Homo sapiens: one gene and its partners. The protein of the gene in region 1 purifies or fractionates together with the protein of each later gene. This does not show direct contact. Each region holds a gene or a part of one and is shown in the gene's direction. Other genes may lie near its edges.

The links.
Region 2: the proteins of CLIC5 (region 1) and MYO5B purify together in Homo sapiens (affinity purification with mass spectrometry; one large-scale study listed by BioGRID and IntAct). This does not show direct contact.
Region 3: the proteins of CLIC5 (region 1) and MYO5C purify together in Homo sapiens (affinity purification with mass spectrometry; one large-scale study listed by BioGRID and IntAct). This does not show direct contact.

What each region holds. Positions count from the first base shown.
Region 1 is NC_000006.12:45,907,763-45,911,415, reverse strand, and holds part of CLIC5 (chloride intracellular channel protein 5), read left to right. Parts: intron 1-3,653. UniProt on the Homo sapiens protein: In the soluble state, catalyzes glutaredoxin-like thiol disulfide exchange reactions with reduced glutathione as electron donor. Can insert into membranes and form non-selective ion channels almost equally permeable to Na(+), K(+) and Cl(-).
Region 2 is NC_000018.10:49,901,524-49,905,176, reverse strand, and holds part of MYO5B (unconventional myosin-Vb), read left to right. Parts: intron 1-348; coding exon 349-505; intron 506-2,343; coding exon 2,344-2,583; intron 2,584-3,653. UniProt on the Homo sapiens protein: May be involved in vesicular trafficking via its association with the CART complex. The CART complex is necessary for efficient transferrin receptor recycling but not for EGFR degradation.
Region 3 is NC_000015.10:52,247,260-52,250,912, reverse strand, and holds part of MYO5C (unconventional myosin-Vc), read left to right. Parts: intron 1-2,129; coding exon 2,130-2,213; intron 2,214-3,320; coding exon 3,321-3,455; intron 3,456-3,653. UniProt on the Homo sapiens protein: May be involved in transferrin trafficking. Likely to power actin-based membrane trafficking in many physiologically crucial tissues.

The sequences.
Region 1 (3,653 bases):
ACAGAAAGGGACTGGGGAGATATCGTGGTGGCATCTCTCATTGTGAGAGCTTTATCAAAGGACTCGGACTTCATCACCCTTGCTTGTAGTTACCTAAGCCAGACAGAACAGTGTGGGGGTGGCTTCTTTGGTGCCCACACCAAACCAGTTATTTTAACAGAGAGAATTTAAGGAAGTACTATGTAGTAAAGAACTGGAAAGGCAAAATATACTAGGAGGTTCTACCTTCAAGAGGCAGCTACTACTCCTAGGGCAGGAGGAACAAAGGGAAGAGGTTGGAATTATTAAAACTTACAAACTTAGGGGCTCTGTAGATGAGGGACCCTGCAGAGCTGAATGTCGGTGAAAGTGATGCTCAGCTGGTGCCAGGGTCCAAGCTCAGGTTGGCTGGGATCCAGCCTCTAAAGCAGAGTTCCTGCTATGTGCTGGCCTCTCTGCGTGGGTATGATGAAGTGGTCCTGTGAGTATTGACAAAATAGCAAACTGGATTCAGCTGCTGCTCCCAGAAATAAATGGAGACTCTGACAGAAAGAGGAAGCTGAAAAGCATGGGCTTCTCCCTCCCTTCTCCTCCTCCAACCTTGCTGGCTCTCTCCAGTAACTCCTCTTGGCAGAACCTAACAGGATTCACTGGCAAAGAAGAGATGTGATCTGCTCAGTCCTAGCCCCAGCATCACAAAAAATAGTAAATAGAAGAGTAGGTTTGGAGACAAGCAACAGTAAATTAATGGCTGGAACATGAGGGATTCTGAGTAGACCGACCCATTGCTTTATCAGCTATGTAGGGCTGAGTAGTAAAGTAGAAAGAACTGTGGATTATAAAGCAAGGACTGTAATAAATATTAATGGTAACTCAATAGATATTGGTTAAATTAATTAATTTATCATGTAACATTAAGTCACATAATCTCTTGTAGCTTCAGTTTGCTCATTGCTAGGGATCTTCAGTCTTTAAAATTATTTTATTACACTTGACACTAGAGAACCTTGTCTGATGTACAGATAAGATTGTAAACTTTGAATCCCAACCTATTTAATCTCCCTTTGTCTTGCTTTTCTCATCTGTAAATGGGAATATAATAGATTCTTCCTTATAGGATTATTTAGAGATTTAAGTACCTTGCAAAGTACTTAAAGCAGTCCCTGGAACAGAGCACACAGTGAATAAATGTTTGTTATTATCATTCCTCTGATCAACATCATTATTGAGATTATCAAGGAGTACAGAAGTGAAGAACCTGTGATTGCTATCCTTACACTGCCCACAAGTTAGAAAAAAAAAGGGTACTGAAACAGTAATCATGATTCAGAATAGATTATAGCTCAGTGTTATAACAGAAGTTCAACACTGGCCTAGGAGCATAGAGGGGAAAAAATGTTCCCAGATGTCTGTGAACATGTCTGCAACAGTGAGTTTTTCATCCATCAAGTCATCATCATCCTTCACTTCAGCATAACTTTCTGGGAAACTCTGCATATTACCAGCACCAAAATGGAGACAAAAGCCCAGAGTGACTGATCTGGGGCTTCTCTGAATGGGAGGATCCCAGGGTCAATGGTCTAGGGCCCTCTCTGAAAATGAAAGCAAGGTAGAAGGTGGATATACAGATACAAGAAATCCAGAGAACACCTGTGAGATACCATACAAAATGAACTTCACCAAGGTATATAGTCACCAAACTGTCCAAGGTCAATGCCAAAGAAAAAAGTCTTAAAGGCAGCTAGAGAAAAAGGTCAGAACACATACAAATGGAACCCCATCAGGCTAACAGCAGACTTCTCAGCAGAAATATTGCAAGCCAGAAGAGATTGAGGGCCTATTTTCAGCATTCTTAAAGAAAGAAATTCCAACCAAGAGCTTCATATCCCACCAAACTAAGCTTTGTAAACAAAGGAGAAATAAAATCTTTTCCAGACAAGCAAGTGCTAAGGGAATTTATTACCATTAGACCATACTTACAAGAGATCCTTAAGGGACTCTAAACATGGAAACAAAAGAATGATACCTGCTACCACAAAAACACACTTGTAAATAGCCAACAGACCCTATAAAGCAAGCACACAATAGAAACTACAAAGTAACCAGCTAACAGCTTCACGAAAAGATCAAAACCTCACATATCAATATTAACCTTGAATGTAAATGATCTAAGTGCCCCACTTGAAAGACATAGAGTGGCAATTTGGATAAAAAATAAGAGCCACTCATCTGCTGTCTTCAAGAGACCCCTCTCATATGTAACAACACCCATAGGCTCAAAGTAAAGGGCTGAAGAAAGATCTATTACACAAATGGAACATAAAAAAGAGCAGGGGTCACTATTCTCATATCAGGTAAAACATACCACAAACCAACAATAGTGAAAAAAAAAAAAAGAACAAAGAAGGGCATTACATAATAGTAAAGGGGTGACTACAACAAGAAGACTTAACCATTCTAAATATATACACACCCAACACTGGAGCACCCAGGTTCACAAAACAAGTACTTCTAGACCTATGAAAAGACTTAGCAACAACACACAATAATAATGGGGGACTTCAACAACTCACTAACAACGTTAGACAGATCTTCGAGGCAGAAAACTAACAAAGATATTCTGGACTCAAATTCAACACTTGACAATTGGACATAACAGACATCTACTGAATACTCCACCCATTGACCATAGAATATACATTCCTTTCATCTGCACACAGAACATACTCCAAGATCAACCACATGCTCAGTCATAAAGCAAATCTCAATAAATTAAAAAAAATAGAAATTATATCAATCATACTCTTGGACCACAGTGGAACAAAAATAGAAATCAACACCAAGAAGATGTCTCAAAATCACACAATTACATGAAATTAAACAACTCACTCCTGAATTACTTTTGGGTAAACAACAAAATTACGGCAAAAGTAAAAACATTCTTTGAAATAAATGAAAACAAAGACACAACATACCAAAATCTCTAGGATGTAGCAAAAGCAATATTACAAGGAAAGTTTATAGCACGAAATGCCTACCTCAAAAAGTTAGAAAGATCTCAAATTGACAAAGTAACATCACACCTAGAGGAACTAGAAAAACAGGAACAAACTAACCTCAAAGCTAGTATAGTAAAAGAAATAACTAAAATCAGAGCAGAACTGAATGAAATTGAGACCCAAAAATTCATACAAAGAATCAATGAAACCAAAAGTTGGTTTTTTGAAAGGATAAAGAAGATCCATAAACCATTAGCTAGATTAACAACAACAACAACAAAAAAGAAAATCCAAATAAGCACAATCAGAAATGACAAAGAAGACATTACAATTGAGCTCACAGAAATACAGAAGATCCTTAAAGACTATTATGAACATCCCTATGCACACAAACTAGAAAATCTAGAGGAAATGGATAAATTCCTAGAAATACACTTTTCAATTGCCTTGAAAACTGTAACAAGACAAGGATGCCCACTCACCGCTCCTATTCAACATCATAGTGGAAGTCCAGAGCAATTGGGCAAGAGAAAGAAATAAAAGGCCTACAAGTAGGAAAAGAAGAAGTTAAATTCTCTCTTTACTGATTATGATTCTATTTCTTGAAAACCCTACAGACTTCACCAAAAGGCTCCTGGAACTGATCAACAACTTCAGTAAAGGTTCAGTATACAA
Region 2 (3,653 bases), on another chromosome or scaffold:
ATGATGTAGAATGCTACTGGTGAAGTAGTTGAGGACTGCCCAGGCACAGTGAGGTAGAAGAGTGCTCAGATAAGGATCATAGAGGAAGTCAGACTCTGACTGAGTTTGAAGCTTGTGGGAAGCCTTTCGAGACCATAAGGAAAGAACTAACACTGCTTTTCTAGCCACAACGTCAAATGCCTAAGGCATTGCTACATTTGTTAGGGGTGAAGAGAGTTGGTTTCCCCTGGGTGTGTCCAGGTAGGGCCACAGAGGGAGAGGTTTGCATTTGCAGATGTCTCAGGGTTCTCTGCATCAGGGCGGTCAATACTCTCTCCCTGACACTGCCTGTTTCCTCTTGCTCCCCAGGCTGGCTGAGCACCTGCGGAGGATCAGAGCGGCTGTGGTGCTCCAGAAACATTACCGCATGCAGAGGGCCCGCCAGGCCTACCAGAGGGTCCGCAGAGCTGCCGTTGTTATCCAGGCCTTCACCCGGGCCATGTTTGTGCGGAGAACCTACCGCCAGGTGAGTAGCCACTCTGAGGGCCTCAGGGCTGCAGATTCAGAACTAAAGTGGCAACAGATGAATTACTGCCAACGTGAACCTCTGTCAAGCACTCCCAACTTTTTTCTAAATGCTTTCACATCTCTGCTCTCACCAAATCCTTTCTGAAGTCCCACAAGGTAGGAAGGGTGTGCATACTGTTGTCTTAGTCCATTAAATGTTGCTATAACAATATCTGAGGCTGGGTGATTTATGAAGAAAAGAGGTTTATTTGGCTCACAATTCTGGTGGCCAGAAAGTTCACAATTGAACATCTGCTTCTGGAGAGGGCCTCAGGCTGCTTCCACTCATGGTGGGAGGTGGAAGCCGGTGTGTGCAGAGGTCGCATGGTGAGAGAGGAAGCACAAGAGTGGCTCTTTTAACAAGCAGCTCTAATGAGAACTAACAGTGAGAAATCACCCTTGAAGAAGGGCATTTATTTGTTCATGAGGGATCTGCCTCTATGACTCAAACATCTCCTGTTAGACTCCATCTCCAACATAGGGGATCAGATTTCAACATGAGTTTTGAAGGGGCCCAGCATCCAATCATGGCAGTTTTCACACCCCTTCTGATACCTGAGTTGCTCAGAGAAGCCAGGTCACCTGCCTGAGGGCCCAGGCCAGCCAACAGCAGGGCCAGGTGACCCACCTAGGGCTCATTCACACTTGAGGGCAGGCGGTGGTATTGGGCATCATCAGGTCTAACTCCTCCACTTAACGGATCAGGAGCTTGAAGCCCAACATGGTGAGGTCAGGAGGGAGGCCCCGACCTCTTCCCTGCCAGGTTCTTGCTCTTTGTGTTGTTCCAGTGAAGCCAAAACCCTTGGGTTCAGGAGCCCCACATCAGGACACATCTGTTCAACCAGGTAACACCAACACATCTGAAGCACAGAGCTGACTTGAAACACGAATTGGAAGGAAATGTCTAAAATGGTTTTCTTTTTCATTAAATGAACATCTGTCTCTTCTATGATCACAGAAGGTGTGATTTTCTAAATAATAAAAGTAAAGCACGAAATTGATAATAATAAAAATGTGGTCAGGGTGGAGCACACCCTGGTGTAGTATGTAGAGAAACCCAGGCCATTGGGAGAAGGTTCTGTGAGTGTTCTTGGGTGATGGGTGGCGTTGGTGTGCTGCTCCCATGGAAGGGGCAGGTGATGTTTGGGAGTTTCTCAGCAGGGGCAGCATGTGCAAAGAGTGAGCACTGATGTGGCTCCCAGCTCTGTCACTCATGGCTGTGGCACTGTTCATTGCTCAGCCTGTTTGCTTGTTTACTCATTTATTCCACAAACATTTATTTTACCAGGTATTAGGGCGAGCACACTGATGATGCTTTCATATCCTGAGTGGTTTTTTAACTTGGTAGAAAAAAAAAAACAGTGAATTACACACCAAGTTTGTAATTATAAGCCATTAGCCTGCTGTGGACACTCACTGAAGTATCTCACTTCCAGCTCAGTGCCACCAGGAGGGGACCTCCACCTGGTAAATGGGTAGAGAGCAAGTGGATGATCATTAGGCCCCTACAACCTTGAGGTTTTCAGACTGTGGTTTCCTAACCCATAAAACAAAAAGTAAAACAAAGCTGAAAAGAGTTTGACAGCTGATTCCCTGTGGATATGTAGGCGCAGAACCTCGCTGAAATGTGTTATAAAACAACCACCAAAGCCTTAGATCTTAGGGGGCACATTGTCTGTGTAACTCCTAGAACCAAGGCTGCCCTGGCCTCTTCCCTCCACAGGCAGTGATGTATGCTTCCTTCACTCCTGTCCTGCAGTGCAAACCCACAAGATGTGTATCCTTGTTTCCCGCCAGGTCCTCATGGAGCACAAGGCCACCACCATCCAGAAGCACGTGCGGGGCTGGATGGCACGCAGGCACTTCCAGCGGCTGCGGGATGCAGCCATTGTCATCCAGTGTGCCTTCCGGATGCTCAAGGCCAGGCGGGAGCTGAAGGCCCTCAGGATTGAGGCCCGCTCAGCAGAGCATCTGAAACGTCTCAACGTGGGCATGGAGAACAAGGTGGTCCAGCTGCAGCGGAAGATCGATGAGCAGGTCAGTGTCTGCAGCTCCCTACCTGGGTGTCGGGGGCTTGGGTACTGGAGCATTTTGAGAGAGCCCACAGCTTCCTTGAGGAACTGCACATGCCGAAGACCCGAGGGAGCACAGACGTCCTCAGACCACAGCAGATACTAACTGTGGCAGGCAGATCAGTGACCCCTAAAGATACCCTCAGCCCTGGGATCTGTGAGTGTGTTACCTTATATGGCAAAAGGGACTTTGCAGATGCAATTAAATTAAGAACTGTAGGATGGGAAGAGTATCCTGGGTGAGCCAGGTGAGCTTGATATAACAGGGGTCCTCCTAAGAGGGAGGCTGGAGGATCAAGTTCAGAGAAGAAGTGATGACAGAATCAGAGGTGGGAGGGATGCAGGCAGCCTTGAGAAGCCAGAGAAGACGAAGACATGGACTCTCCCCTAGAGCGTCCAGAAAGAATGCAGCCGTGCCAACCCCTTCAGACTCCTGACCTCCAGAGCTGTAAGATAATGATTTATGCTATCTTGAGTCATAACTTGGTGGTAACTTGTTGCAGCAGCAATAGGAAACTGACACACTAGCCCAAGGTGCTGGTGTTTTGCCCTTGCAGGGGTGACATAGGGTAATGCAGCAGCAGCTGGTGTGCATGGAGGGCTTGCTGTGTGGGGTATGGGGCTGGCGCTTTGACTGGAGTAGCTTGTCTAATATAGCGGCCCTCCTACGGCAAGTATTACCATCCCCCTTTTTGTACAATTGAAGACACTGGAAGGGCACATGGCATCCTAAAGTCACACAGGTGGCAGTGGCAGGGCCGAGGTTTGAACCCCAGCTGTCTGGCTCCAGAGCCCATGCTCTGCATCACTTTGCCCTTCTGTCTCTCTGTCTGCCTATCTGTCTGTCTGCCTCTTTTGGAAAGAGTGTTTGCTTTGGAAATCAGAATTCAGTTCTTCTGCTTAAAAGTTGAGTGGCTGATGTGACTACTCTGAACCTCTTTTCTTATCCATAAAATGGGGCTGACAGGGCTGAAAGAAGAATAAATGGTCTAATGCATATGCAGGGCCTGGTATGCAGTAGGAGAAACTTGAAAA
Region 3 (3,653 bases), on another chromosome or scaffold:
CTAAACAAATGTTACTTGTCTAAAATGAAAAATTTTTGTTAAAATCACATTATAGAAAGCTTAGAAAACAGAAGGAAAAAATTGCCATAACCACCTGCCCTAAATGTACATTCTTATTTGTTTTCCTTCCTTAAGGGAGCTCCTACCTCCTCCCATGTCCTGGTTGGGTGTTGCCTTGGTGGCCTAGCCCAGTGCCAGGGCTCACAGGAATGGCTTGTGCTTGTCTATGTTTATCGCAGAGGCCGGTGCTGTGAGTCAGAGCTGGTCATTCCCGAGTGACTGATGGTGGAGGGAGGGGACAGCAACCTGGAAAGCTGTGATCACCTTTGTGTGCTAGCAGAGTACTGTAAAATATTAAAATATAGGATTGGCCGGGTGCAGTGGCTCACACCTGTAATCCCAGCACTTTGGGAGGCTGAGGCGGGTGGATCGCTTGAGACCAGGAGTTTGAGACCAGCCTGGCCAACATGGCGAAACCCCATCTTTACTAAAAAATACAAAAATAAGCCAGGCGTGGTGGCACGCACCTGTAATCCCAGCTACTCAGGTGGCTGAGGCAGGAAAATTGCTGGAACCTGGGAGGCGGAGGTTGCATTGAGCCAAGATCACGCCACTGCACTCCAGCCTGGCTGACAGAGTGAGACCCTGTCTCAAAAAAAAAAAAGAAAAAGAAAAAGAAAAAAAAAAGATAAGTTTTTAGTGCTTAGACTTTTTCAGATGGGCTCCTGAAAAGATGCCTATGAAATGAAATGATCATATGTCAAATTATATTTCCTAGCTATTGTCATAATTTCAGGGTTCTGGTCCCATAGGAAAAGGGAGGGGGAAAGACCAGACTCCATAAAAAGCACATATGGGATTTCTTTCAAGGGTCTCTCTTTATAGGATGTAGTTTCTGGACATGTAATTCTCTCACCTGCCACTTCCAAGAAGTCTCCCTTAAAAGAACTAGGCAGCGTTTGGGCTGGACTATGGATTGATTGGTGGGAAGAACCCACATGCACTATGGGGTTAGATTAGGTTTTCAATCTCATTGGCCAGGGAAATCAGGTCGTATTGAATGCAAGTCAGCTGAGCTTAGATGTAGCAGCTCAGCACATCTTCCTTTGGTCCCAGAGTCCCCAACAGAGGCACCAGCTGCATGTGACACTGTCCCCACAGATGCTCGCCCAGACCAGGAAAGCTCTGTATTTGCCACCTTTGTCTATCTGTCCTAGTGGCTCACACCACCATTCTGGAAGAATTTGTACAACAATCCAGGTACTTCATTCACAAAGAAGTGTTTGCAAACAGCCGGTGTTCCTGGATCTTAACCTACCTACCGGCAAGGATACTTCCTTACCTGGGGGACAAAGCAGAGGCCATGCCCAGGGAACCCTCTGCTTACGGATTCCAGCACTCTCCCCTGTTTCCTCATTGTCAATTTTTAAAATTAATTTTAATATACGTTTTTAATTTATGAAAAATAAATTATCACATATTAAGATATGCAATCCAGAGGCATAAACTAGGGGGAGGTTGAATGTTGAAGCAGCCACCCTGGATATGCCATGGTTTGAGGCATTCGAGAAGCCTTCTTCATCAGAAAGGGCAGCATGGAGAGTTTTTCTAAGCTAGATTCAAGCAGTGCAAAGGTTGACCCACTCTAAACCTGATTCTGAGGGCTTGGTGGCTCTTGAAGGCTTGGTGGTCAGCTGGTCGGTTTTTCTATCCTTTCTACCACATTAATGTTGATTTAGGAAACGATGTCTGTTTGAACCCAATGAACACCACTAAGCTTTTTCCTCCTCCTGGTGGCTTCAAAGGCAAAGGGAGACCTAAGTCAGGTGTTCTTGTAGGAACTGCACATACCGCAGGGAGCAACTGGACCCCTGTGGCCAGAGGGAGCCAACAGGTGAGTGCAGAGTGATCAGCAGGCAGGTGAGAAACCCAGGTGGTGGGAGAGAAGACACATTCCCAGCTTATACATAATGGGGCTGCTGCCATGATGCACAGAAGCCAGACGTCTTTTTGTAAGATTGCCTCTGTAGCCTTTTTTATTAATCTTTCTTAAAAAAGAGATGAAACTTGTGCTTAGAGGCTATATTCTTTGGCCTCTTTGGGAATAATTAATTGCTTTCTCTGTATAGGTAGAGTATAAATGTGAAGGTTTCCTGGAGAAAAACAGAGACACCGTCTATGACATGCTGGTTGAAATCCTGAGAGCAAGCAAGGTCTGTAAAGTCCTAGGGGTAACTAAAGTTATTATATAATTGACATGGATCTAGATGTATATAAGGAAAGAGTAAGGAGAGAGAGAGAGAGAGTGTGTGTGTGTGTGTGTGTGAACTCTCTGGACAGTGGTAAGTTGTAGCTCACAGATTCAAAAAGATAACTACTGTAAATCTCTACTATATGCAAAATCAGAAATCAAACATGCAGATGACAGGAAGGACAGCTAATAGAACCATTGAAGAATCACAATTCCAGCCAGACGTGGTGGCTCACGCCTGTAATCCCCGCATTTTGGGAGGCAGAGGCGGGTGGATTGCTTGAGGCCAGAAGTTTGAGACCAGCCTGGCCAAAAAAGCAAGACCCTGTCTCTTCTAAAAATATAAAAAAACATTAGCAGGGAATGGTGACATGCCTGTAGTCCCAGCTACTTGGGAGGCTGAGGTGGGGAAGACTGCTTGGCCCTGGGAGATAGAGGCTGCAGTGAGCCATGATTGCGCCACTGCACTCTTCTTCTGGGCAGCAGAGCAAGACCCTGTCTCAAAACAAAACAAAACAAAACAAAATATGAAATTCACTCTGAGAGAAGATAAGACATTTAAAGAAATAACTGATACAAAGCAGAAGGTAGTAAGTGCTTTAAATGAGGTACAAATACAAGATGAAGACGGTTCAGAGAAGTTGGGATTAATTCATTCATTGCGAAGTGGGTGGGGCTGGAAAACATTTTAAGAGATTCCTGGGTAGGGTTTGGATCTGCAGGGATGAGAATGTGGAGTAGGAGGGAGGAGATTGCAGGTGGAGACACAGTGTGAGCCAGGCACGGAGGTGAGAATAGTAGATGTTTCCACTTTCTGACACTTAGAGTGATACCCACATACAGACATTTACACACTTTTCTTCTCTGTTCCCCTTCTCGGGAAAGAAGTCACGGGCCATCCCTATGAAAGACGATCGTCTTGTGGAATTGAGATTTGGCTGTAGATGTTGGTGAGGTTGTTCACCGCCCACTAGTTTAGCTGAGTTGTTGTCACCATTTACGTGGCTTGTATGAGTGAGTACTGTGGGCAGTTGCTTTTGGACATTGAGATCCTCTCTGTTCCTTCCAGTTTCATCTCTGTGCCAACTTTTTTCAAGAAAATCCAACTCCTCCTTCTCCTTTTGGTTCAATGATTACAGTTAAATCTGCAAAGCAAGTCATCAAGCCAAACAGCAAGCATTTCCGGACCACAGTTGGGAGCAAGGTACTGAGAAGGTGTTTGAGAGTGAGGGGTCTAAAGGCAGGGCCAGGCCCTGGGGAGCCAGGGCACTCAGAGGACCCGCATTCCAGGCCTGGACATGGACAGACGCTGGGGCTCTTCCAATCTAACATGGACTCCACTGCAAAAAGTTCATCGTCGTCATACTTCCACCTCCAAGGCAGCACGCACTGGAGCAAACCA